Linked DNA regions of Homo sapiens. The protein of the gene in region 4 purifies or fractionates together with the protein of the main gene of each other region. This does not show direct contact. Each region holds a gene or a part of one and is shown on either strand. Other genes may lie near its edges. The genes, in order: KIF3C, DYNLRB1, KIF3B, AKAP12, ARMC6, ARFGEF1 and ACBD3.

Region 1 (3,500 bases), on a different chromosome or scaffold from region 4:
CCTCCAAGAAAGGTGCTGTTATTGTTCTTGTTTTTTTTTTGAGGCGGAGTCTCACTCTGTCGCCCAGGCTGGAGTGCAGTGGCGTGATCTCGGCTCACTGCAAGCTCCACCTTCTGAGTTCACGCCATTCTACTGCCTCAGCCTCCCGAGTAGCTGGGACTACAGGCGCCCACCACCACGCCCGGCTTACTTTTTGTATTTTTAGTAGAGATGGGGTTTCACCACGTTAGCCAAGATGGTCTGGATCTCCTGACCTCATGATCCACCCGCCTCAGCCTCCCAAAGTGCTGGGATTACAGGCCTGAGCCACTGCACCTGGCCTTATTGTTCTTGTTTTATAGATGAGAAAACAGAGCTCCATTGAGGTGAAATAACTCTCCCAAGGCCACATGGTTGGTATAGTAAAACTATGTAAACCCAGCTGGATTTGACACAAAATCTGATGCTCTTTTAGGCTTAAAAAATTAGGAATATCAGGTTGGGAACTGGTTCCTGAGGAGGTGCTGAAAAATTATAGGAGTAGGCTGGGCAAATTATAGGAGTAGGAGTGGCTCACACCTGTAATCCCAGCAATTTGGGAAGCCAAGGTGGGTGGATTCCTTGAGCCCAGGAGTTCCAGACCAGCCTGGACAACATGGAGAAACCCTGTCTTGACAAAAAATACAAAAAATTAGCCAGGCATGGTGGTGTGTACCTGTAGTCCCAGCTACGCAGGAGACTGAGGTGGGAGGATCGCTTGAGCCCAGGAGGTTGAGGCTGCAGTGAGCCTTGATTGCACCATTGCACTCCAGCCTGTGTGACAGAGAGGAACCCTGTCTTAAAAAGGAAAGAAAAGAAAACTGATAGGAGCTGCTGTAGATGTGTCACATTTGAGGTGACAGAGTCCAGTGGGCAGCTGGAGTTGGGCCAGTGGAGTTTAGAAAGAAGCCCGAGACTGGAAATGGAGATTGGGTCTCATTTTTTTTTTTTTTGAGATGGAGTTTCACTTTTGTTGCCCAGGCTGGAGTGGAATGGTGTGATCTTGGCTCACCGCAACCTCTGCCTCCCAGGTTCAAGCGATTCTCCTTCCTCAGCCTCCCGAGTAGCTGGGATTACAGGCATGCACCACCACACCCAGCTAATTTTATATTTTTAGTACAGATGGGGTTTCTCCATGTTGGTCAGGCTGGTCTCAAACTCCTGACCTCAGGTGATCCACCTGCCTCAGCCTCTCAAAGTGCTGGGATTATAGGCATGAGTCACCATGCCCAGCCCTGCCCCTCTATTTTTGACACTCTATCCCTCTGTGTAAATGACTCCCAGATCGAGGTCTCCTCTCTGGTCTCTCTGCTGGCCTTATTATATGAAGTGCTATGTTCAGGGCATGGGCATCAGAGTCAGCCAGGTCTGGATTTAGTGACTTACCAGTTCTGAGGCCTCTGAGTACCAGTTTCCTTAGCTATAAAATGGGATAGTAATAGTATCTTTGTTACAGTGCTATTGAAATAATTAAACAAGGGCCAGGCGCAGTGGCTCATGCCTGTAATCCCAGCACTTTGGGAGACAGAAGCAGGAGGATCACTTGAGCCCAGGAATTCAAGACCAGTCTGGGCAATATAGCAAGACCTTGTCTCTAGGAAAAAAAGAAAAAGGCCGGGCGCGGTGGCTCATGCCTGTAATCCCAGCACTTTGGGAGGCCGAGGTGGGTGGATCACGAGGTCAGGAGACTGAGACCAGCCTGGACAACATGGTGAAACCCCGTCTCTACTAAAAATACAAAAATTAGGTGGGCTTGGTGGCGCGCGTCTGTAGTCCCAGCTGCTCAGGAGGCTGACGCAGGAGAATCACTTGAACCCGGGAGGCAGAGGTTGCAGTGAGCCGAGATCACACCACTGCACTCCAGCCTGGTGACAGAGTGAGACTCCGTCTCAAAAAAGAAAAAAAGAGAATTAAACAAGAGAACGAACATAAAGCACTTTGCACAGTTTCTGGCACACAAGTGTTAAGTAAATAATTATTATTGCTATGTCAAACCACCTAATAGATGTTTTCACTTGGCCACCTTCCTGATATATTAAACACATCACATTTTAGTTTGGCATTCAAGGCGCTTCAGAGTCTGACTGCAATGCATCTCTTCTATCTTGCCTGCCCAAGCCGGTTACTCCAATAGGAAAACCCTGCACCAGCTGTTCTACCCCTTCCTTTGAAATCAACATGGGCCTCCCTATCCTACTGCTGATTGCACTGTTTTTGTGTCCTGGATTGTTGCTGGTAACCAGGGAGTACGAATTATGGAAGCAGGTTAAGCTTAATTTAAAGATCTCTTTAACAGTTAAAATTGGGCTGTTTCAAGAAGAAATAGGTGGCCTTGATGGTGGTGATGATTTCACGGTTGTATACCTGTCCCCAAATTCATTGAGTTGTATACATTAAATATGTACAGCTTTTTTTTTTTTTTTTTTGAGACAGAGTCTCACTCTGTTGCCCAGGCTGGAGTACAGTGGGACGATCTTAGCTCACTGCAACCTCCGCTTCCCGGGTTCAAGCAATTCTCCTGCCTCAGCCTCTTAAGTAGCTGGGATTACAGGTGCACGCCACCACACCTGGCTAAGTTTTGTATTTTTAGTAGAGATGGGGTTTCACCATGTTGTCCGGGCTGGTCTTGAGCTCCTGACCTCAGGTGATGCACCCACCTCAGCCTCCCAAAGTGCTGGGATTACAGGCATGAGCCACCGTGCCTGACCTAAATATGTACAGCTTTTTACACATCAATCATGCCCCAGTAAAGTCATGGGCTCCCATCCCTGGAAGTGTTCAAGGAGAGACCGAATGTCAGTGGTGCACTAAGGGCTTGATATATCAGGAAAGCCGTTGAACCAGATGATCTTCAGAATCCCTTTCTCTTAAAGGCCCTTAATTGTTTAAAATGTTATTTTTTAAACAGTAAAAGAGAAAATATTTAGCTTTCTGAAAATTAAGACCAGAAGATTTAAATTTTAATGTAGTATGAATTCAAACAATAATATAATAGAGGATGTTTTTCAGCTCTCTGTCATAACCAGTTAGAGAAGAGTCAAAGACAATGGGAAGAAGAGAAGAGAGAAAGAGAGAGATAATAGGAGAAAAGCAAGAGAGAAATAGAGGGGGACAATAAAGAGGGGAAAGAGAAAGAGGTGGGGAGGTAGAGTGGGTAAAGCTGTGGACGACAGGGTTTTTGGGAAGAAGAAACCTCGATTGGGAGAGGAAGTGCTGTAGTGGAGAGAGTGAAATACTGTGTATCATTCCACTGTCCTGATCTTAATGTTAGTCTTCAAATAGGGCTATCTCCAGTCTCCAGAGACTTCCACAAAGCTGATCTGGTTCCATCCACATGTCCCCAAGGACACCAGCCCCATGCTAGACACTCTGAGATTTGTGGGGCTGTGTGATCAGCTGAGTCCTGTATGATCAGACCCTTGAAAGAAGCCTTGAGATAACAAGTGACCCATACTCCAGGCTGGGTTTGGATCCAGGTCACA
Region 2 (4,116 bases), on a different chromosome or scaffold from region 4:
TAACATACATGGTGGTTTACGCCCATAATCCCAGCATTTTTGGAGGCGGAGGTGGGCGGATCACCTGAGGTCATGAGTTTGAGACCAGCCTGGTCAACATGGTGAAACCCTGTCTCTACTAAAAATAGAAAAAAAACCCTGTCTCTACCAAAAATAGAAAAATTAGCCAGGCATGGTGGCATGCTCCTGCAGTCCCAGCTACTCCGGAGGCTGAGGCAGGAGAATCACTCGAACCCGGGAGGCAGAGGTTGCAGTGAGCTCAGATCACACCACTGCACTCCAGCCTGGGCGAAAGGGCAAGACTCTGTTTCAAAAGAAAAAAAAAAAAAGTTAAACTAGGCATCTAAATTTGCATTGCTTTTATGAGTATAACCACGGAGTAGCATAATACAGGTTCTAGAAAGCTACAGTTTAAGTAAGAAAAAGGGGGGCCATATAAGTGCTTGTATAGATGCATAAGAAACTAACAGCTGGGTGTGGTGGCTCACGCCTGTAATCCTAACACTTTGGGAGGCCAACGTGGGTGAATCACTTGAGCCCAGGAGTTCAAGACCAGCCTGGGCAACATGGCAAAACCCCAACTCTACAAAAAAAAAATACAAAAAAATTAGCAGGGTGTGGTGGCGTGCACCAGTAGTCCCAGATACTTGGGGAATTAAGGCAGGAGGATCACTTGAGCCCAGGAGGGTCAAGTTTGCAAGAAAAAAAAAAAAAGAAACTAACAATGGTTGTTTCTAAAGGAGGAGAGACTGAGACTGGGGGTTAGGAGAGTGGGAATTTTATTTTTCACTTAGATCCTTTTACATCATTTATTTTTTTACTGTGTGCAAGTATTACCTGTAAACAATCCTAAAATTCGTATGGAACCACAAAAGACTCAGAAAAGCCAAAAGAAGCCTGGACGAAAAGAACAAAGCTTGAGGTATCACACTACCTGATTTCAAAATATACCAGAAAGGTATAGTAACCAAAAGAGCATGGTATTGGTATAAAACACAGACCAATGGAATAGAATAGAGGACCCAGAAATAAATCCACTTATTTACGGCCAACTGATTTTCGACAAAGGCATCGAAAAAACAAAACAAAACAAAAACAACAACAAAAACGAAAAAAAAAACCTACCATAAATCAGCAATACCACTACTGGGTATTTATTCAAAGGAACGGAAATTAGTACATCAAAGGCATCCCTACATCCTCATGTTCATATTGCAGCACTATTCATAATAGCTAAATTATGGAATTAGCGTCCATCAATAGGTAAATGGATAAAGAAAATGTGGGCCAGGCGTGGTGGCTCACGCCTGTAATCCCAGCACTTTGGGAGGCTGAGGCGAGCAGATCACGAGGTCAGGAGATCGAGACCACCGTGTTGAGGCGGACTAACACGGTGAAACCCCGTCTCTACTAAAAATACAAAAAATTAGCTGGGCGTGGTGGTGGGCGCCTGTAGTCCCAGCTACTCGGGAGGCTGAGGCGGGAGAATCACTTGAACCTGGGAGGCGGAGGTGGCAGTGAACTAAGATGGTGCCACTGCACTCCAGCCTGAGCGACAGAGACACACTCCATCTCAAAAAAAAAAAAAAAAAAAGAAATAATGAATGTTTAAGGTGATGGATATTCTATAATAAATATAGCCTGATTTGATCATTACACATCATATGCATGTATCAAAATATTACATGTATATCTACAACATAAATGTGTACAACTATTATATATCAATTTTTTTTACAGCTTAAGAAGTGATGTGAAAAATGAAGTTATACATATTTGAAGCATTATTACATGTTTGTAATGATGTGGAGATATTGTGGTGTAATAATGAAAAACACAGAACCCACAATTGCACATTCAATAGGGGCTAAACTGTATAAACCAAAAACAAGCAAAAAAGACTAGAAGTCATATGACTACTGTAAGTGGTTGCCTCTAGGTGATGACACGGTTTCTTTTTTCAATTTTTTTATTACAAGCTCTAGATTTCTAAATAAGATTTTTGAAAAAGTAATATATTCACATGGCTTAAAATTTGAAACTTTTTCAAATTTTGCCCAAGCTGTGAGGATTACAAACACAAAACCTGTAACGGCGTTGAGAACCCACAGCTGCAGCAAGCAAGGTAGAAAGCAAGCTTTGGGATCCCCAAGAGCAGACCCCGCCCGTTCCTGACTCTGGCACCCAGTCCCAGCGGCTAGAAAGAACCACGCCGACAGAGTGGCGGCCGTCAAGCTTCTAGGGTTCAAATCCATCTCCACTATTTCCTGGGGCAAAGCACTTGGCTTCTCGGGGCGCTGAATAACAGATATGTATAACAAAATGGGACTAAAGATTGTATCTACCTCACAGAGCTGGGAGGAGGCGGAGGAAATACAAGATACATAAAGTGCTTGGCAGAGCCTGCCACAAACTGAGCTCCCGGGAAACGTTGCCAGGGTTGCCATCGCGCACCAAGGCCCCAAAACTCTAGGCTGCAGGGCCGCCGCCCACCCCTCGCCCATCATCTCTTCCTGGCCGAGGCTGGGCTCCCGCTTCCGGTCAAGGGGCAGCGGGATCCGGCGGCCCCGCCTCGGTCAGGCTTTAGAGGCCTCCGCCGCCGGGTTCCACCCTCAAGTCGGCTGGGGCCCGGGCCCGGCCACGCCCAGCCACCACCGATTCCCTGTCCGGAGCTCTGAGATCCCCTCATCCTCGGAAGACTGAAGGCCTGGCGTGGGGTGGTGGGCGGCCGCCAGCCACAAGACCCCGGCGCACGCTCACCATTTCCGACCGATCCGGTAGCCCCGCGTAGCGAACACTTAGCGAGTCCTGTGCCTTTCTGCGCCTGCGCAAAGGTTTCTGTCAAAACGGACAGCTCTAGCTGCCTATCAGGAGCCAGCGTGAGGCGGGGGCGGGCGAGCCGATCTTGGCTCCGCCAGGATTCTTGGAAAATCTGCTTTCCACTGTGGCAAAGCGAAAAGCTAAGGAGCAGTGCGCTAAGCTGTGGAAAATTCCCAACTCCAGCCGTGCAGAAAAGATGCTGGTTCTGGCTGGACGCGGTGGCTTACGCCTGTAATTCCAGCACTTTGGGAGGCCGAGTCGGAAGGATTGCTTGAGCCCAAGAGTTCGAGACCAGCCTGGGCAACATGGAGAGACCCCTTCTCTACTAAAAAATAAACAAAATTAGCCGGGCGTGGTGGCGCGCTCGTGTAGTTCCAGTTACTCCAGAGGCTGAGGTAGGAGGATCGCCTGACCAGGAGTTCGAGGCTGCAGTGAGCCGAGATTGCGCCACTGCACCCCAGCCTGGGCGACAGAGCAAGAGACCCTGACTAAAACAAAACAAAACAAAAACCATGCTGGTTCTCGGTATCGGAAGAGGCTTTCAGTGCTGGTTCTCGGTATCGGAAGAGGCTTTCAGCTCTCAATGGAGGTCTAAGCTGGTTCTGGAGTCCCTGAGTGGAGCGTGGTGGGAGGGTATGAAGGCAAGTGGGACGGTTGCTGAGACCCGCTTTGCGCCCAGACTGAGCCAGAGAGAGGCCCAGGGCCAAAATGCGCTTCGGGATCGGGCAGGCCTGGGGTGGGGCTGGAGTCAGGTACCTCGAGTCTCCGGGTAAGATGCCGTGCAAGCTCGGAGATGAATTGGTTAGGGCTGGCCTGGGAGTCTTTAGAATCCGAGCTCAGCCCCGCCTCGCGTTACCTAGCAGAAGGCACTTCACATCTGTGTGTTCTGTCTTGTTCTCACCTCTGAAAGGGGGACTCTTCCCAGAGCCCTATGTTGTCCTGTTCCGGCAGGCCGCAAACGTTTCTGGGTCCTCTAGGAGTAAATAACTTCTGTTAAAACATGCTGCCGTTTAGTGAACCCTGTGCCACATTACTGTGCTGAACACGCACATAACGTTATCTCCGGTAGCTTCAGGGAAGTATCGGTAACCTCGATACTTTATAAATGCTGTTTCTCCCAGGCACTGTAGCTTGCTGGATTCAACGATGATCTAACTCCAAAGTTTCATTCCACAGTAGCTGCTCTTCAGTGAGGAAGGATTTGGTTCTCCTTCCAGGAGTGTCTGCATGTTAAGAGGATTGACTTTACTGCGAAGAAACCTAGCAGACACCACCGTAACCAGATCAAAGTTAGTA
Region 3 (3,500 bases), on a different chromosome or scaffold from region 4:
TGCAGTGAGCTGTGATCGTGCCACCGCATTCCAGCTTGGGTGACAGAACTAGACCCTGTCTTTAAAAAATTTTAAAAAATCCCCACAGAGTCTGAATTCTATCCCATCAGTGTGCCTCTCCCATGAATTACTGTGTCCTTTCCTCATGATGGCATCTGGCGCCATATGGTTAAAGCCTGCTTGCTTGTCTGTTTTCCTCAGTGGACTCGGAGCTTTGTGATTCACACTCACATTGCATCCCCAGGACCTAACATAAAGGGTCTGCTTAATATGTTCTAAGTGGGGTTAATACTTTGTAGAAACAAGCAAAAAAAAAAAATTTGTTAAAGCTGAAATTCATGTATCTGAAGAAACTGTATCTTCAGTGTTACCAAGAAGCCTCTAGTGAAGCTGCCCCAGTCCCTCACCAGTGATGGATGGGCACAGCTGAGCACAGTGTATTTTTTCCCAGAGTTTGTCCCTTTTGGCTCAGTCCTGAGCTCTTTATCTTTCACAGGCTCCCCTGTGAGGAATTATGTTCTGAGAGAAACCGTTCATGAGATGGATTCTACTTTGTTTCTCACTCAGGCCATGGAGAGTAAGTTGCTTGTTGGAGGAAAAAATATAGTAGATCATACGAATGAACAGCAGAAAATCCTGGAGCAGAAACGACAGGAAATTGCAGAGCAGGTAACTTTTCATTCTTTTTCAGGGAGAATGGGTGAGGTAAGGTGTGTTTATGCTGCAGAGCAAACGTCTCATATTAGACTCTCTTCAAAGAGAATGAGAGCAAGGTGTGTCTGCCTCATCCTAGCTGGAGACTCTGATCCTAGCTTGGGGAACCCAGCATAGACACAGTCTCTAGGGCAAGCTGATGAATTTTGTCATGTTGCTCAGAAACGTCGAGAAAGAGAAATCCAGCAACAGATGGAAAGTCGAGATGAGGAGACCTTGGAACTTAAAGAGACATACAGCTCATTGCAGCAAGAGGTGGACATCAAGACCAAAAAACTCAAAAAGGTATGAAAGGAATGAGGCCAGATGGAGTTGCCTTGAGACTTGGGGAAAGGGAGAACTCTACCCTTTGGACAGACACCCTCCTCACCTGCCTCTCCCCTCATTCCAGCTCTTCTCCAAGCTTCAGGCAGTGAAGGCTGAGATCCATGACCTCCAAGAAGAACACATCAAGGAGCGCCAAGAGCTAGAGCAGACTCAGAATGAGCTCACCAGGGAGCTGAAACTCAAGTAAGTGCCAGGCCTTCCATAGTGCCCCCAAGCCACTTGCTGAGTCATTGATCTCGTTTGTTTAGTTAGAAACAGCCCTGGCTGGGCTTGGTGGCCTACGCCTGTAATCCCAGTGTTTTGGGAAGCGGAGGCGGGCAGATCACCTGATGTCAGGAGTTCGAGACCAGCCTGACCAACATGGTGAAACCCCGTCTCTACTAAGAAATACAAAAATTAGCTGGGCGTGGTGGTGCATGCCTGTAGTCCTAGCTACTTGGGAGGCTGAGATAGGAGAATCGCTTGAACCCGGGAAGTGGAGATTGCGGTGAGTTGATATCGTGCCACTGCACTCCAGCCTGGGCGACGGAGTGAGAAAAAAACACAAAAAAAGAAATAGCCCTGAGGACAGGTCCTTCTCCAGCTCATCTCCTGCCACCCCATGTTCTGTTCATTCCTGAAAAAGTCACTTTCCATCTCTGGATCCCATCTGTTAACTGAATGACTTCATCAGGTGATCTCCAAGTTCCCTTCTAACCCTACCTTCTCGAAGCTTTTAAAGATTCTGGTCTTACATCTGTCTGATGATAAGAGGGAATATTTTATTAACTTGACTTTTTATTGTGACAATTTTCTGAATGGTATAATAAATACCCAAGTACCCATCACCCAGATTCAAGGATTAACAAGCTTTTGCCATCTATCTTTCACAAAAATATTTTAAAGCAAATCTTAACCTCATGTTATCTCACTCCTACATACTTATATATATATATATATGATCACAGTGGTTTTTTTTTTTTTTGAGACAGAGTTTTGCTCTATCACCCAGGCTGGAGTGCAGTGGCACAATCACAGTTCACAGCAGCCTGTAACTTGTGGGCTCAAACAGTCCTCCCACCTTAGCCTCCCGGGTAGCTGGAACTACAGGTGTGTGCCACTATGCCCAGCTAATTTTTAAAAAAAATTTTATAGAGATAGAGTCTCTCTATGTTACCTAAGCTGATCTCAAACTCCTAGGCTCAAGCAATCCTCCTGTTTCAGCCTCCCAAAGTGCTGGGATTATAGGTGTGAGCCACCACACCCAGCCCACAATACTGTTTTTAAAAAAGCTTAATTGAGACATACTTCACATACCATACAATTCACATATTTAAAGTGTACAAATCAGTCCGGGCATGGTGGCTCATGCCTGTAATCCCAGCATTTGGGAGGCCGAGGCAGGTGGATCACCTGAGGCCAGGAGTTCAAGACCAGCCTGGCCAACATGGTGAAACCCCGTCTCTACTAAAAATCCAAAAATTAGCTGGGTGTGATGGCGTGTACCTGTAATCCCAGTTACTCAGGAGGCTGAGGCAGGAGAATCTCTTGAACCTGGGAGGCGGAGGTTGCAGTGAGCTGAGATCACACCACTTTACTCAAGCCTGGGTGACACAGCGAGATTCTTGTCTCAAAAAAAAAAAAATTAAAAAATGATAAAGTATACAAATCAGTGTTTTTTTAAAAGCATATATATGCATAGGGCTATAAAACCACCACTACAATCTAATTTTAGAACATTTTTATTACTCTCCTCTAAAAGAAACTCTACCAGTTAGTAGTCACTCCTCATTACCCCCTTTCCCAACCCGAAGTAATCACTAATCTGCTTCCTGTCTCTATGGCTTTGCCTATTCTGGCCATCTCATATAAATGGAATCACACACTGTGTGGCCTTTTTGGCCTGGTGTCTTTTGCTTAGCATGACGCTTTCAAGGATCGTCCATGCCGTAGCATGGATCAACAGATATCTGGTAGTCCCAACATCAATTGTTCTTTATTATGACTGAATAATATTGCACTGTATGAATAGGACACATATTTATTTATTTTTCAGTTTATATACATTCCGATTATTTCTAGTCTTTGGCTATTATGGATAATACTTCTATAAGCATTCATGTATAAGGTTTTGTATGGATGTGTGTTTTCATTTCTCTGGGATACATTCATAGGAGTGGAATTGCTGGGTCATATGGTAACTCAGTGTTTAACTTTTTGAGAGAATGCCAAACTGTTTGCCACAGTGGCTGCACTATTTTACATTTCTACCACCAATTTCTCCACATCTTCTTTTTTTTTTTTTTCTTTGAGACAGTCTCGTTCTGCCACCCAGGCTGGTGTGCAGAGGTGCAGTCTCAGCACACTGCAACCTCCACCTCCTGGGCTCAAGCGATCCTCCCACCTCAACCTCTGGAATAGCTGGGACTATAGCGGCATGCCACCCTACTTGGCTAATTTTTGTGTTTTTTGTAGAGATG
Region 4 (3,500 bases):
GCTCACGACTGTAATCCTAGCACTTTGGGAGGGTGAGGCAGGAGGATTTCTTGAGGCCAGGAGTTTGAGACCAGCCTGGGCAACATAGCAAGACCCCTGTCTGCAAAAAAATTTAACAATTAGCTCGGAGTAATGACATGTGCCTGTGGTCCCAGCAGCTATTCAGGAGACAGAGGCAGAGGCAGGCGATTTGCTTTAGCCCAGGAAGTCAAGGTTGCAGCAATCCATGATTGCACCACGGCATTCCAGCCTGGGTGACACAGCAAGGCTCTCTCAAAAAACAAAACAAAGATAGGGCTGGGCGTGGTGGCTCACACCTGTAATCCCAGCACTTTGGGAGGCCAAGGCGGGCGGATCACGAGGTCAGGAGATCGAGACCTCCTGGCTAACACGGTGAAAACCCATCTCTACTAAAAATACAAAAAATTAGCTGGGTATGGTGGCGGGCACCTGTAGTCCCAGCTACTCGGGAGGCTGAGGCAGGAGAATGGCGTGAACCTGGGAGGCGGAGCTTGCAGTGAGCCGAGATCGCGCCACTGCATTCCAGCCTGGATGACAGAGCGAGACTCCGTCTCAAGAAAACAAAACAAAACAAAACAAAAACCACAAAGATGGGGAGTTACTAGCAACTGCAAGTAACTAACACAGTGAGGGTCGGTCATTATATGCGCTGGAAAATTTTTAAAAATACTTGTTACTACTGCTAGGGGAAAAAAAATCCATTTTTTCTGAAAGAGCTATCATCAGCTATATTTCAGGCAGTTTAATATTAGCCCATTTGGGGGCACTAGTTTTTTTTGTTTGTTTTTTTTTTTTGAGACGGAGTCGTGAGGCACCACGCCCAGCCATTGGAGCACTAGTTATTTTTAAAAAAACTCAACAAGATAGTTGAGTGAACACAATGTATTTCTTATGCCTTTGGGTCAAACACGCACATGTGCACACACACATGCCGTTTTATTTTATTCTAAAGCAGTCACATTAGGAGGTAAAACGAAGTCGTTCTTTTCATAACATCGATAAGACTAAATGGCATTTCAATCACCAAAAACCATGAAACTATCCTAGATCTTTGAATCTAGTTGATAGTTATTTTCCTCAACTGAAGGTTCTACACGAAGGCATTAATTATTTGCTCCCGATTCCTTATGTAACAAATTTGCCATCTATTGGCATAAAAGAGAAAAATTATCTTAGAAGACAAGGAAGCTTACCTGCATGATGTTTTAAGATTCTGTAAGTTCTGACTTTGCAGATTCTCTCTCTTGTTTCTGTAACTCCTCCTGTGCTTGGGGTGTGATCGCTTTATCTGATTCACTGTGCACTTTTCCTTCCTGCAATTCTACTTCCTGGGCATCCTCCTTCTCTTTTTGTTTTGGTCCATTTGTATCTGGGGACTCTTTGGTTAAGCCTCCTGAGGCATCAGTATCAGCCAGGGCTGAGTTCTGGTTTTCAGGGTCATCAACATCATCACCTTTTTCATCTTCTTTCGGTTCAACTAGTGACTTCTCTATTCTTTCTGCTAACAAGGCATGACCATCATCTTCTGGCACAGACTTTGTTCCAGCTCCACCTCCCTCTTCCTCAGATGGGAGGACGACCTCTTCCAGCTGCTGATCATTTACAGTGGAACCTTCTACCTCAACAGTCATGGTCTTTTCTGAGGCTTCACTCATGTCTTTGGAAATATCAGAATGTGCTTGTCCCACTGCGGTTGACTCTGACTCCTCTTTGGCTGAAGTAATTGGTGTTTCATCCTGTGCAGAGGCCTGAGGTTCCTCTCCTTCTTTCTCCGTTTCCTGTCCAGCGTCCTGGCTGTCAGCTTTTATCACGTGAGCTTGTGTCTGTAACTCAGACGTCAACATTTCGGTGGCTGTTTCTTCTGTACGTACAAACTGGTCAACGGCTGTCTGGATGATGTTTTGGACAAGTTTACTGCTTTTGGTCTCAAGTTCCAAAATCCCATTTTCAGGCTCTAAATCCTCAATTGCTACACTCACTTTGACCTCCTGGCAAGCAACCTGCTCATCGACTTCATCTGACTTCCACTTCAGTGATGTGGTTTTCTCTCCTTCCAGGTCGGAACTTAAGCCTTTCTTGGTAGTAGCAGATACTATCACTGGTGTCGATTTTGCCTGACAGTCGGGCCCTGTGGGCACAGCATCTTCCCCTGGATGAGCGGCAAAGTCTTCATTTTTTTCAGAGGATTTCTCTTCCAGAACTAAATGTGCACCTGCAGGCTCCAACGTTTCACCTGTTTCTAAAATGTTGGCAGTTTCTCCTAAGACCTTTTCCTCCTCTGCAGCCGCTGTTAGAGTGAATGATGCCTCAGAGCTCTGAACTTGAATTTTGGTGCATACTGCCTCCTCTTGACCTAGGCAGGGAGGAGGGCTTCCTTCCAAACTGCTGACTTCCTTTGCCCCATCTATGATGGGCACATTCACTGTCTGGAGGAGCTGCTTACTGACCTCTTCAGATACGGTAACAGCTGTTTCGTGCTCAAGCTTCTCTTCATTCACATGGGTTGGCTCTGCTTCTGTTTTCTCCCTTTCGACTTGAACTACCATCTCTCTCTCCACGGGGGATGGAGGAGACTTAGCGTGACTCTGCAGTTCAAGAGCATCATCCTTTTTACATTCAGCTTCTTCTGTCCCTTCACCTTTAAGGGCAACTTCAGTGACCTTTTCCCGACTGACTGTTATGCCTGTGTCTATAGACCCCTCAAGTCCTTCGAAAAATGGTACGTCTTTGGTTTTCTCATCAGCATACTGGTCAGCCTCTTGAGTCCCCTCAGTCTTTGACAGAATGGATACAGTTTCCACTGACACCTCTTTATCTGTATGCTCTAGAGTGTCTTCCATCTTTGATTGTTCTTTAGTTTCTTCCTGGAACACAAAACTGGAAGGTGCTGGAGGCCTCTCTTTCTGTGCAGGAACTGCCTCTGCTTCTGTGCCCCCTGACTGGGTACCAGATGCGACCTCATTCTCCTCATGGATTTCCACAATCTCGTCTTTCTGGGTTGTGCCTGGTGCGTCAAAGTCGGCTACGGGGGTGCTTCCATCAGTCTCACTGTCTGTAGGGGTTTCCACCGAGTCAGGGGGGATAGCCTGTTCCATCACCATCTCCTGTGATTTTACCCCAGCTAAGGTTTCGGCTTGACAAGTGGTTACAAGCTCACTGGACTCTATGCTCTCTGTGACTTGAGGAGCTTTTTCAAAGCTTTCTGGGGTGGTCTGCCCCACCACCTTCCCTTGTGTAAAAGGCTCAGTTTTTGCCTCCTGAGCATCTACTTTCAACACTACATCCGTCTCTTTCTTCAGACCCGACGCTTCAGCCTGCTCTTCTGGTCTTTCTGCCTCTGCTCTCTGCACAGGCTGAAGCACATCTTCTGGCCCACCGGTGCCAGGCAGCTGGGATTCCTCTTTCACTTTTTCTGCCACTGCCTGGAGGACCTCTTGAGTCCGCCTCTCTTGCTCTTCTATGTCAGGTACGCCACCTTC
Region 5 (3,500 bases), on a different chromosome or scaffold from region 4:
TGCGGCTGGTTCTTCCCGCCCCCACCACCGTCTCCCTTTCTCCCTGCAGCGTTCCTGGATAACCCTGGCATCCTGAGCGAGCTCTGTGGAACCCTGTCCCGCCTGGCCATTCGCAACGAGTTCTGCCAGGAGGTCGTCGACCTCGGGGGCCTGAGCATTCTGGTGTCCCTGCTAGCCGACTGCAATGACCACCAGATGAGGGACCAGAGCGGCGTTCAGGTATGAAGTCCCCCTGGCCCATTGCGTGCTGTCCTTCTGGGTCCCAGTCAACCGGACGAGCTATAGTCAGAACAAGCCAGCCCTGCCTGCCAGTGTCGGAACCAAAGTGCAGTTTTTCTTTTCACGGACCCAAGGGCAGGAACCAAAGGTCGGGGGGGAAACAAACCCACCTGCTCTCCCTTATTGTCCTTTTGCACCAGGAAAAGGATGGTAGGAAGCATAGGGTTGGGGTGTGTCGGCCAAGGCTGGGATACTTGGGTTAGTTCCCGCACCTCTGCCTCAGTTTCCCTAGCTACAGAATAGAGCAGTGTCCCTACTCATTACTCCGTTTAGCAGCCGATTATTGAGCCCTTCTCCATGTGCCCATCCACAGCAGGGAGCCAATCAACAGGTGCCTCCCTATCCAGCTGCAGCTGCAGGAAAGCCCCCAGGGGTGCCACGGTCCTGCGCCCCCAAGCCCAGCTGTTGACGTCAGCCAGCCTCTTTCTGTGCAAGTGGCCAGGAGCTGAATGGGAACCAACTTCAGCAAATGAAGGGATACATTTTGCCCTGTACTCCTGGGCAGTTGGGGGCAGGGTCCTCAGGTTCTCCATCGGGGGATCAGCAGTCCCAGTAGCACCTCATCCACTGTCCTCAGTGCAGGGCAGTTAGCGCCTACCCTGGGTCTGTGGCCGTGGACAGGGGGACCCTGTGCTCTGAAGGCCGGCCTGAGTCACATGCCCCCGCTGCCCCTGTCGGGGTAGGGGATCAAGTCACCTGGATGGTACCGTTTGGACACAGGCAGCCTGAGCCACAGGCATCTGCCACCCCTTCTCGTTAGTCACACCCTGCAGTCACACCATACCTGTTGGTCAAACAGCAAAACAGCCCCACATTCTCCCTCAGAGCCCTCTCCCACAACCAGCGGCCTGGCTGGAGGTGAGCGGGCCTTTCCCTTGTGCAGGAGCTCGTGAAGCAAGTGCTGAGCACCCTGCGAGCCATCGCAGGCAACGACGACGTGAAAGATGCTATTGTCCGTGCTGGTGGGACGGAGTCCATCGTGGCTGCTATGACCCAGCATCTGACCAGCCCCCAGGTACCCACCTCGGGGGGCACACACAGTAGCAGGGTGGTGGCTGGAGTCCCAGTTCAGTTTCTGTATCTGCATGAAGCTCTATTCCCCTGCAGGGCCAGGGCAGGGCTGGTGAGGGTCGTGGGCATTGGCTCTCAAATGCTGACCTGCGTATGCATGACTTTGGGTGTCCTGGAGTTACCACCAGCACCCTGCAAAGATCTGACCAGGCCTATTGCCCTTGTCACCCCTAAGAGCTGAGCTGATATTTTTGTCACCCTGCCATTATTACACAGGAGTTGCCAGAGACCCACGGAGGGGAGGCCGCAGGGTGTTCACCAGGGGTTGGTGGCCATGGCAGGATGTTGTGGGGGGTCTATCTGCTGCATCTCAGCCTTTCTGTGACTGGCCCCTGCAGGTGTGTGAGCAGAGCTGCGCGGCCCTGTGCTTCCTGGCCCTGCGTAAGCCCGACAACAGCCGCATCATCGTGGAGGGTGGCGGGGCTGTGGCAGCACTGCAGGCCATGAAGGCACACCCGCAGAAGGCCGGCGTGCAGGTGGGCAGGGCAGGGGATGGGGGCAGGCAGGCTGGTGTGGGATGTGCAGGTAGGTGCAGAGAGGGCATGGGAGCAGGTGCGGTGTGCGGGTGGGTGATGGGGCAAAGGCTCAGTCCCTATCCCTATCCCTGTCCCTGTCCCTCCCACAGCCGAGCCCCATAGGGCCAACTTCTTTCTCATCTTGCAAAATGTGCTGAATTCTGCCTTCATTTGCCTCCTTCTCTGCCTTTGTTTTTTCTGCATTTACTCTCCTTTTTTGGGGAGGGGGTAGTTTGGAGGGGCTTTCTGGTGAAACCCTGGAAAGAAAGCTATAACACGTAATCTCCTTCTGTGGGTTTTTTTTTTTTTTTTTTGAGACAGTCTCACTCTGTCGCCCAGGCTGGAGTGCAGTGGCGCCATCTCAGCTCACTGCAACCTCTGCCTCCTGGGTTCAAGCGATTCTCCTGTCTCAGTCTCCCGAGTAGCTGGGATCACAGGCATGGGCCACCACGCCCAGCTAATTTTTGTATTTTTAGTAGAGACAAGGTTTTGCCATGTTAGCCAGGCTGGTCTCGAACTCCTGACTTCAGGTGATCCACCCACCTCCACCTCCCAAAGTGCTGGGATTACAGGTGTGAGCCACCGCACCCTTAATCTCCTTTTTTAAAAGTCCCTATAGAGAGATCTGGGGAGAAAGAAGTTGGGGAAGCGTGGATGGGGATCTGCCTGGGGTTTCAGAAAGGTTTCTGCCCCCTCCTTGGGCTGCTGGTCTGAGTTCTGAGTGTGGGACACCCTGTCCACACCTCCCTGGCTGAACCCAGACTCCTCCGTGCAGCCCCCGGGGCCCTCCTCGCCTCCTCACTCCCAGCATAGGATTCTTGGACACACCAGGCTGGGACCCACAGGGGGCCTTTGCTCTCGCTGGCTCTTACTCTGGGACACTGACCCTTACCTGGTCTGACCCCTTGTCCACTTCTGGCCACCCTGGCCAGCAGTTCCCCACTCTGCATGCGCTTCCCACCTGCTGTCCTGCTGGTGGTGGGAGCCACCCTGGGAAGCTTCCAGGCAGTGCCCCGCGCCCACCCACAGCAGGTGCACAGGGCACAAATGTCCACTGAATGGGTAGGGATGTAATTGACAGGTGCCTGTGCACAACCACTGTCTTCCCGTGGCCTCACTGCCCCCTTGCCCTAGGGCCCCTTCCTTGGCTCTGTGCCAGCCTCGGGGGACCTCAGGCTCACCAACTCTGAGGCTGAGAGTTCCAAAGCCATAGGATAGATCCTGGAGCTTCCCTGAGCCTGTTTCCTTGCCTGGGAGTTAGCCATGCCTTGTGGGGCTGCCAAGAGGGTAAAGTAGAGAGATGGGTCTAGCTTGATACAGTATAGGCAGCTGCTGGATGTCAGCTGTGGTTATGATCACCTCCATCTTGTTATGATGAAGACCCTGAGGTCAGAGTGGACCCCACCCCAAAGCCCCATCTGGCAGCTCACAGCTGCTCTCTCCTACAGAAACAGGCTTGCATGCTGATCCGAAACCTGGTGGCCCACGGCCAGGCCTTCTCGAAGCCCATCCTGGACCTGGGGGCTGAGGCACTCATCATGCAGGCCCGATCTGCCCACCGTGACTGTGAGGACGTGGCCAAGGCCGCCCTGCGGGACCTGGGTTGTCATGTCGAGCTCCGAGAGCTGTGGACAG
Region 6 (3,500 bases), on a different chromosome or scaffold from region 4:
CAGTTGAAAGTGAAGCTAACTTTTGGATTCTAGTCCAGAGCTCTTTATAGGCAGTTATGTTTTGCCTATTTCAGTGGCACATATACTAAAATTGTAGGCAGTTATAGTGTCCATTTTTTATAAATTATTTTTTATTAAATTGCTCACTGGTTATTTGTGAAGCATTTAAATTATTTTTTGAGAAGTTAGTATACTGAATGTATGGGTGTTATGTTTTGCCTTTAATAACCCTACCTTTTTTCTTGAAGGCTTTCAAGGAATACACAAGCGATGATATGAACGTAGCACCTGAAGACAGGGTGTGGGTGAGAGGATGGTTCCCAATTCTCTTTGAGTTATCCTGTATCATCAATAGATGCAAATTAGATGTAAGAACCAGGTAACAATCTATATTTGTAATTAAAATTTTGGATTTATTTTGACTTTAATCAAATTAACTCTTCTTTATAAACACAATCTCACAGTTAAAGACCATAAAATCAAGTGTTTTGTCAAATATATTAATTATTAGGTATATTTTAAAATATGTTAATATGATTTAAAAATATTAACTAGAGCAAAATAAAAATGGAAATACTACATTATTTTTAAAATATTTGATTATAGCCTCCATTTGATTTTAGCTTCTAAGTTAATTTAATCCTTTAAACATTCCGTCTTTTCATATATTTGTTTCCAATAATAAGTTGAAGTTAGTGGCAAAATTTATTTTATTTCCTGATGAATGATAGAAGAATTTTTAACTGCACATCCTTGCTGGGTTTTAGGTGAAGAACCATTTCTTTTTGTAACCTGGTCAGTAACATAGTTTGGAATAATATAGAGCTATTCAAATAGAACTCTTTCAAAAGTATATTGCCAATAAAAGATCATTATGAACATATAGTCAATCTGTAAAGGAACTATTATGGGTATTATGTAACTGGCCAAATGCTAACACACTGTTCTTAGGTCACGGCTCACATGATTCCCATAGTAGTTTTTTTACCCTGTACTTTGCCACATTGAAATGGCCAGCTTGTGTGTCCTAATATCTGTCAACCTCTAAACCCACCGTGAGTTCAATTTTATGGTAAACAAAATCTTTTAGGAATCTTTCCATCTTATTTGGAAGAATCTTCTGTTATTTGGATGTGTAACTTTATCGAATTTTTTGAATTTCTAAAGGTAGCACAGAATGAATCTCTCTTTTCTCACCTTATGCCAGAACCACCCCCATCCCCCACCAAGGTTAAATTTGACTTATATCCCAAGAAATTTTTCATTTTTATAGTATTATTTGTTACAACAGAAATTCGTATGAAATAGATAATCAAAATAGGACTTAACCCTTAGGGATTTTAATTATGAGAGCACTATAGAAAAACATTTTATTTTATATTTAGACATGGTGGATTGTTTATCAGTGGACCTGTTAGGAACTTGTTAAAATTCAAGATAGCCCCATTTCAGCTGTCCACCTGCCTCAGTGGAGCGGCTGACATATCATGACTAGCAGGTCATGAAAACTCAGCACCCTCTCCCCTCACCCTTTATTTATTTGTAGAAGTCTGTTTGATGGAGGATCCACCTGCTTTCTTAGCCTTCTGTTGCTTGGCACTGTGATACCTTATTTCTCACCATATTCCATGTTCAGATTATGGGTAGATTCCAGTTGTTAAAGAGGTTGTGTGTGTTCTAGTTAGTAAAGGAGAGAGAAAAGATCAGTAAACTTTGTTCAGTGATGGCCTTTGATTTTCCTACCTCATCCCAGGATATGTATGGGTTGCTATTTAGCTTCCATCTTAAAATGTGGGCCGGATGCCATGGCTCACATCTGTAATCCCAGCACTTTGGGATGTCAAGGTGGGAGGATTGTTTGAAACCAACCTAGGCAACATAGTGAGACCCCATCTCTTTGAACAAAAAGTTAACTAGGCATGGTGGTCATGCCTCTAGTTCCTGCTGCTCATGAGGCTGAGGCGGGATTGCCTAAGCACAGGAGGTTGGGGCTATGGTGAGCCCTGATCACACCACTGTACTCCAGCCTAGGCAACAAATTGAGACTCTCTGTCTTTAACAACAACAAATAGTGCAGCACTATAATTGGTATAACACTGTGTAGAAAGAATTTCTTGTGTGCATTCTTACTTAATTCTTCCAAAATTCTCTAGATTTGGGGATAAATACCGAAAATTAAAGTCCCAAATATAGTCAGGCATCATTTAATGACAGGAGTATGTTCTCTGCAATGCATTAGTAGGCAATTTCAGCATTGTGTGAACATCATAGCATGTACTTACACAAATCTAGATGGCATAGCCTATTGCTCCTTGGGTACAACCTGCACAGCATGTTACTGTACTGTAGGCAGCTGTTAATACGGTGGTGTTTGTGTATCTAAACATATCTAAACAGGCTGGGTGCAGTGGCTCACGCCTGTAATCTCAGCATTTTGGGAGGCCAAGGTGGGCAGATCACCTGATGTCAGGAGTTTGAGACCAGCCTGGCCAACCTGGTGAAACCCCATCTCTACTAAAAATACAAAAATTTGGCCAGGCATGGTGGCCATACCTATAATCCCAGCACTTTGGGAGGCCCAGGTGGGCGGATCATCTGAGGTCAGGAGTTCAAGACCATCCTGGACAACGTGGTGAAACCCCTTCTCTACTAAAAATACAAAAATTAGCGAGGCGTGGTGGTGCGCACCTGTAATCGCAGCTACTTAGGAGGCTGAGGCAGGAGAATCGCTTGAACCTGGGAGGTAGAGGTTGCAGTGAGCTGAGAGTGCCACTCTACTCCAGCCCAGGCAACAGAGTGAGACTCTGTCTCAAAATAAAAATAAAAATTAAAAAATACAAATACAAAAATTAGCCGGGTGTGGTGGTGCACACCTGTAATCCCAGCTACTTGGGAAGGTGAGGCATGAGAATTGTTTGAACCCAGGAGGCGGAGGTTGCAGTGAGCCAAGATGGCACCACTGCACTCCAGCCAGGGTGACAGTATAAGACTCTGTCTCAAAAAAAAAAAAAATACATACATACATACATACATACATACATACATACATACATATACATATATATATATGTGTGTGTATATATATATATATATATATATGTGTATATATATATATATGCATGGAAAAGGTACAGTAAAAACATGGCATAAAAGATAAAACCTGTAGGCTGGGCATGCATGGTGGCTCACGCCTGTAATCCCAGCACTTTGGGAGGCCAAGGTGGGCGGATCACGAGGAAAGGAGATCGAGACCATCCTGGCTAACACAGTGAAACCCCGTCTCTACTAAAAATACCAAAAATTAGCCGGGCGTGGTGGTGGGCACCTGTAGTCCCAGCTACTTGGGAGGCTGAGGCAGGAAAATGGCTTGAACCTGGGAGGTGGAGCTTGCAGTGAGCAGAGATCATGCCACTGCACTCCAGCCTGGGCGACAGAGCAAGACTCCATCTCAAAAAAAAAAGAAAGAAAAAAAAAAGCAACAACAAAAACCCATATAGGGC
Region 7 (2,282 bases), on a different chromosome or scaffold from region 4:
TTTCCTTGAGACTCTTTAGCATTCATACTTTGGGGTTAAAGGAGATTCCTCAGACTCATCCAGCCCTTGGGTGCTGACCAGCAGAGTCACTAGTGGATGCTGAAGTTACATGAGCTACATGTTAAATATTTAAAGTCTCCAAAATAAAACACCCCAACGTTGACCTTACCCGGCTGATGGTTAGCCCCTTGCTGCCTGCTCCATGTGTCTTATGAGAGCCCGTAGTTACAGTGTCCTCTAATTTGAAATCCATAAGTTAACAAGTCTATATCAGGTGCAGCTGGCTTTGATTAAAGGCCATTTTTAAAACTTAAAAACTCAACACCTCACAGATTATAATAGAAAAAGAAATGGCCTCAGTTTGATCTCGTTCAGAATGACCCAGATTGTTTCTGCTTTGGGTGCAGCTGTTTAGTTCAGAGTTATATTACAGAGAATTATTTTCTGAGATAATCTTAAACTAGAATGTTCAAAACTAATTGATAATTGAAGTATCAAGATACGTAGAACACCTCAGAGATTTTTCTTCAGGAACTTCCACAAACTTTGAATCCTTGTATCTTTATTTGGTATTCATACTACTAGTAGCAAAATACAGGTTTTTTGTTTTGTTTTGTTTTGTTTTGGCTTCATAGAGTATCTCAAATTGAAACTTTTCTGCACAAAGAATAAAATTAAGGATTTTATAAACTCAAATTGGCACCTACTGAATTAAAATACATAAAATCATTTAAATATAATTCAGCATATGGGAAGTAACATTGCACTAATATGGAAATCACTGCCAGAGACAGTCTATTTTCTTTTAATTTGTTACTACTTAGTCACAAACCCCACATTATTCCAGTTTGGAATTACTTATTAAGGAGAATTGGAAATACATATGCCCATGCTTAAATTTTATAGCTTTAATTTGTGTTATTTCTTTATTGACGGGAAGAGGTACATCTTTTTTTCCTTACTGAAAACAAATATGGATTAATTGCCTCAAATTTGTATAAGTGATTGGCTAGTGATTCTTGTTTTCAGAAGGGAGAGTGGTATAGATAGAAAATGACAAAGATGGCAATATACACTTAATGTTGTTATTGTATGTTGTTACTGAAGTACTTAGATTTTTAAAATTTCAAATCCTAAATCACTTCTTGTAGGAGGGTTTTCATTAACTGCAGTATATACAGTTCACTACATATGGGTTGTTTGAGTTTTTTGTGTGCTGTATTTCTTTCTGTTTTTTAATACCTGGTTTTGTACATATCTAACTCTGTTCTCTTTTGGTTGTTCAGAAACTGGATTTTTTTTTTCTTAAGCAGTGCTTAATTTGTGTTTTTTAATTTTGATTCAGAAGTAGTCCCAGCTCATAGGTGTTCATACTGTTACATCCAGAACATTTGTCAGGCTCTCTGTCAGCTTTCATGTACATATGGTATAGAAACCATGGAGTTAGGCACTTCCTGGATTTTTTTTTTATGAGAAAAATACTGTATTTAAAATGTAAAATAAACTTTTAAAAAGCAGGCACTAATATATATTTCTTCCAGCCTTTGATTACAAATTTGTCCTTGCACATGTTAAGATGAATTATCTCCTAAAAATATCATTGTTCTTGGGAGCAGTGTATGTTACTTTACATAGCAGCGGTTCCTGTCATGTGTTCATGTCAGAATATTTTTGGTTTTAAACTTTCTTATTGCCTTTGGCTGTTGATTAGTACAGTACAAGTGCGATTTCAAAAAGATCTTGAAAGTAATATATTTAATCAATTAAAATGTTTATCTGTAACTTGTTGATGTTTCATTAATATAGTTACTCTCTGAAGCATTAGTACAGTATTTCAACATTTGGGTAGGAGAAAAAGAAATGTTTCAAACATCTTTTTTGTTTTAAAAGGCTCTAGTTGAAAAACAACTCTTTCTGGCCAATTATTTAGTTTTACTATTAATTACCTTAGTGAGTTAAAATAGATTTAAATTTTTCCACACTTTTAAATGCAAAGGCTAGCACTGATTTTTCTTATTGAAAATGACTAGGTTATAAAGTTGTTTCTCTACACTACCATGTATGTAGTGTGTTCCATTAAATATGTGGACCCCACACACTTTAATGGATCTCCAGAGGCAGAGCCCTCGCTTGCTCAGGGTGGATGATTGCAGAGCACTTGTGGGGAAGTGCGCGATCAGTGTGATGTGGAGTCCCAGAATGAGGTTGCTACATCCAGATGACCCCACTGATAGGCAGGGTGACTGGCATAATTTTTTTCTTTTGAAATCTGGGGAGACAGA

What was found.
Region 1: the proteins of AKAP12 (region 4) and KIF3C purify together in Homo sapiens (affinity purification with mass spectrometry, with the first as the bait; one large-scale study listed by BioGRID). This does not show direct contact.
Region 2: the proteins of AKAP12 (region 4) and DYNLRB1 fractionate together in Homo sapiens (co-fractionation; one large-scale study listed by BioGRID). This does not show direct contact.
Region 3: the proteins of AKAP12 (region 4) and KIF3B purify together in Homo sapiens (affinity purification with mass spectrometry, with the first as the bait; one large-scale study listed by BioGRID). This does not show direct contact.
Region 5: the proteins of AKAP12 (region 4) and ARMC6 purify together in Homo sapiens (co-immunoprecipitation; one large-scale study listed by IntAct). This does not show direct contact.
Region 6: the proteins of AKAP12 (region 4) and ARFGEF1 fractionate together in Homo sapiens (co-fractionation; one large-scale study listed by BioGRID). This does not show direct contact.
Region 7: the proteins of AKAP12 (region 4) and ACBD3 fractionate together in Homo sapiens (co-fractionation; one large-scale study listed by BioGRID). This does not show direct contact.

Annotation. Positions count from the first base shown.
Region 1 is NC_000002.12:25,972,498-25,975,997, reverse strand, and holds part of KIF3C (kinesin-like protein KIF3C), read left to right. Parts: intron 1-3,500.
Region 2 is NC_000020.11:34,515,106-34,519,221, reverse strand, and holds the start of DYNLRB1 (dynein light chain roadblock-type 1), read right to left. Parts: upstream 2,801-4,116; 5' UTR 2,764-2,800; coding exon 2,761-2,763; intron 1-2,760. UniProt on the Homo sapiens protein: Acts as one of several non-catalytic accessory components of the cytoplasmic dynein 1 complex that are thought to be involved in linking dynein to cargos and to adapter proteins that regulate dynein function.
Region 3 is NC_000020.11:32,315,651-32,319,150, forward strand, and holds part of KIF3B (kinesin-like protein KIF3B), read left to right. Parts: intron 1-567; coding exon 568-669; intron 670-876; coding exon 877-999; intron 1,000-1,105; coding exon 1,106-1,224; intron 1,225-3,500. UniProt on the Homo sapiens protein: Microtubule-based molecular motor that transport intracellular cargos, such as vesicles, organelles and protein complexes. Uses ATP hydrolysis to generate force to bind and move along the microtubule. Plays a role in cilia formation.
Region 4 is NC_000006.12:151,351,467-151,354,966, reverse strand, and holds part of AKAP12 (A-kinase anchor protein 12), read right to left. Parts: coding exon 1,227-3,500; 3' UTR 1,215-1,226; intron 1-1,214. UniProt on the Homo sapiens protein: Anchoring protein that mediates the subcellular compartmentation of protein kinase A (PKA) and protein kinase C (PKC).
Region 5 is NC_000019.10:19,054,103-19,057,602, forward strand, and holds part of ARMC6 (armadillo repeat-containing protein 6), read left to right. Parts: intron 1-49; coding exon 50-219; intron 220-592; coding exon of another isoform or gene 593-688; exon of another isoform or gene 689-1,162; coding exon 1,163-1,294; intron 1,295-1,688; coding exon 1,689-1,826; intron 1,827-3,290; coding exon of another isoform or gene 3,291-3,313; coding exon 3,314-3,500.
Region 6 is NC_000008.11:67,221,782-67,225,281, reverse strand, and holds part of ARFGEF1 (brefeldin A-inhibited guanine nucleotide-exchange protein 1), read left to right. Parts: intron 1-248; coding exon 249-379; exon of another isoform or gene 380-593; intron 594-3,500. UniProt on the Homo sapiens protein: Promotes guanine-nucleotide exchange on ARF1 and ARF3. Promotes the activation of ARF1/ARF3 through replacement of GDP with GTP. Involved in vesicular trafficking.
Region 7 is NC_000001.11:226,144,179-226,146,460, reverse strand, and holds the end of ACBD3 (Golgi resident protein GCP60), read left to right. Parts: 3' UTR 1-1,782; downstream 1,783-2,282. UniProt on the Homo sapiens protein: Involved in the maintenance of Golgi structure by interacting with giantin, affecting protein transport between the endoplasmic reticulum and Golgi. Involved in hormone-induced steroid biosynthesis in testicular Leydig cells.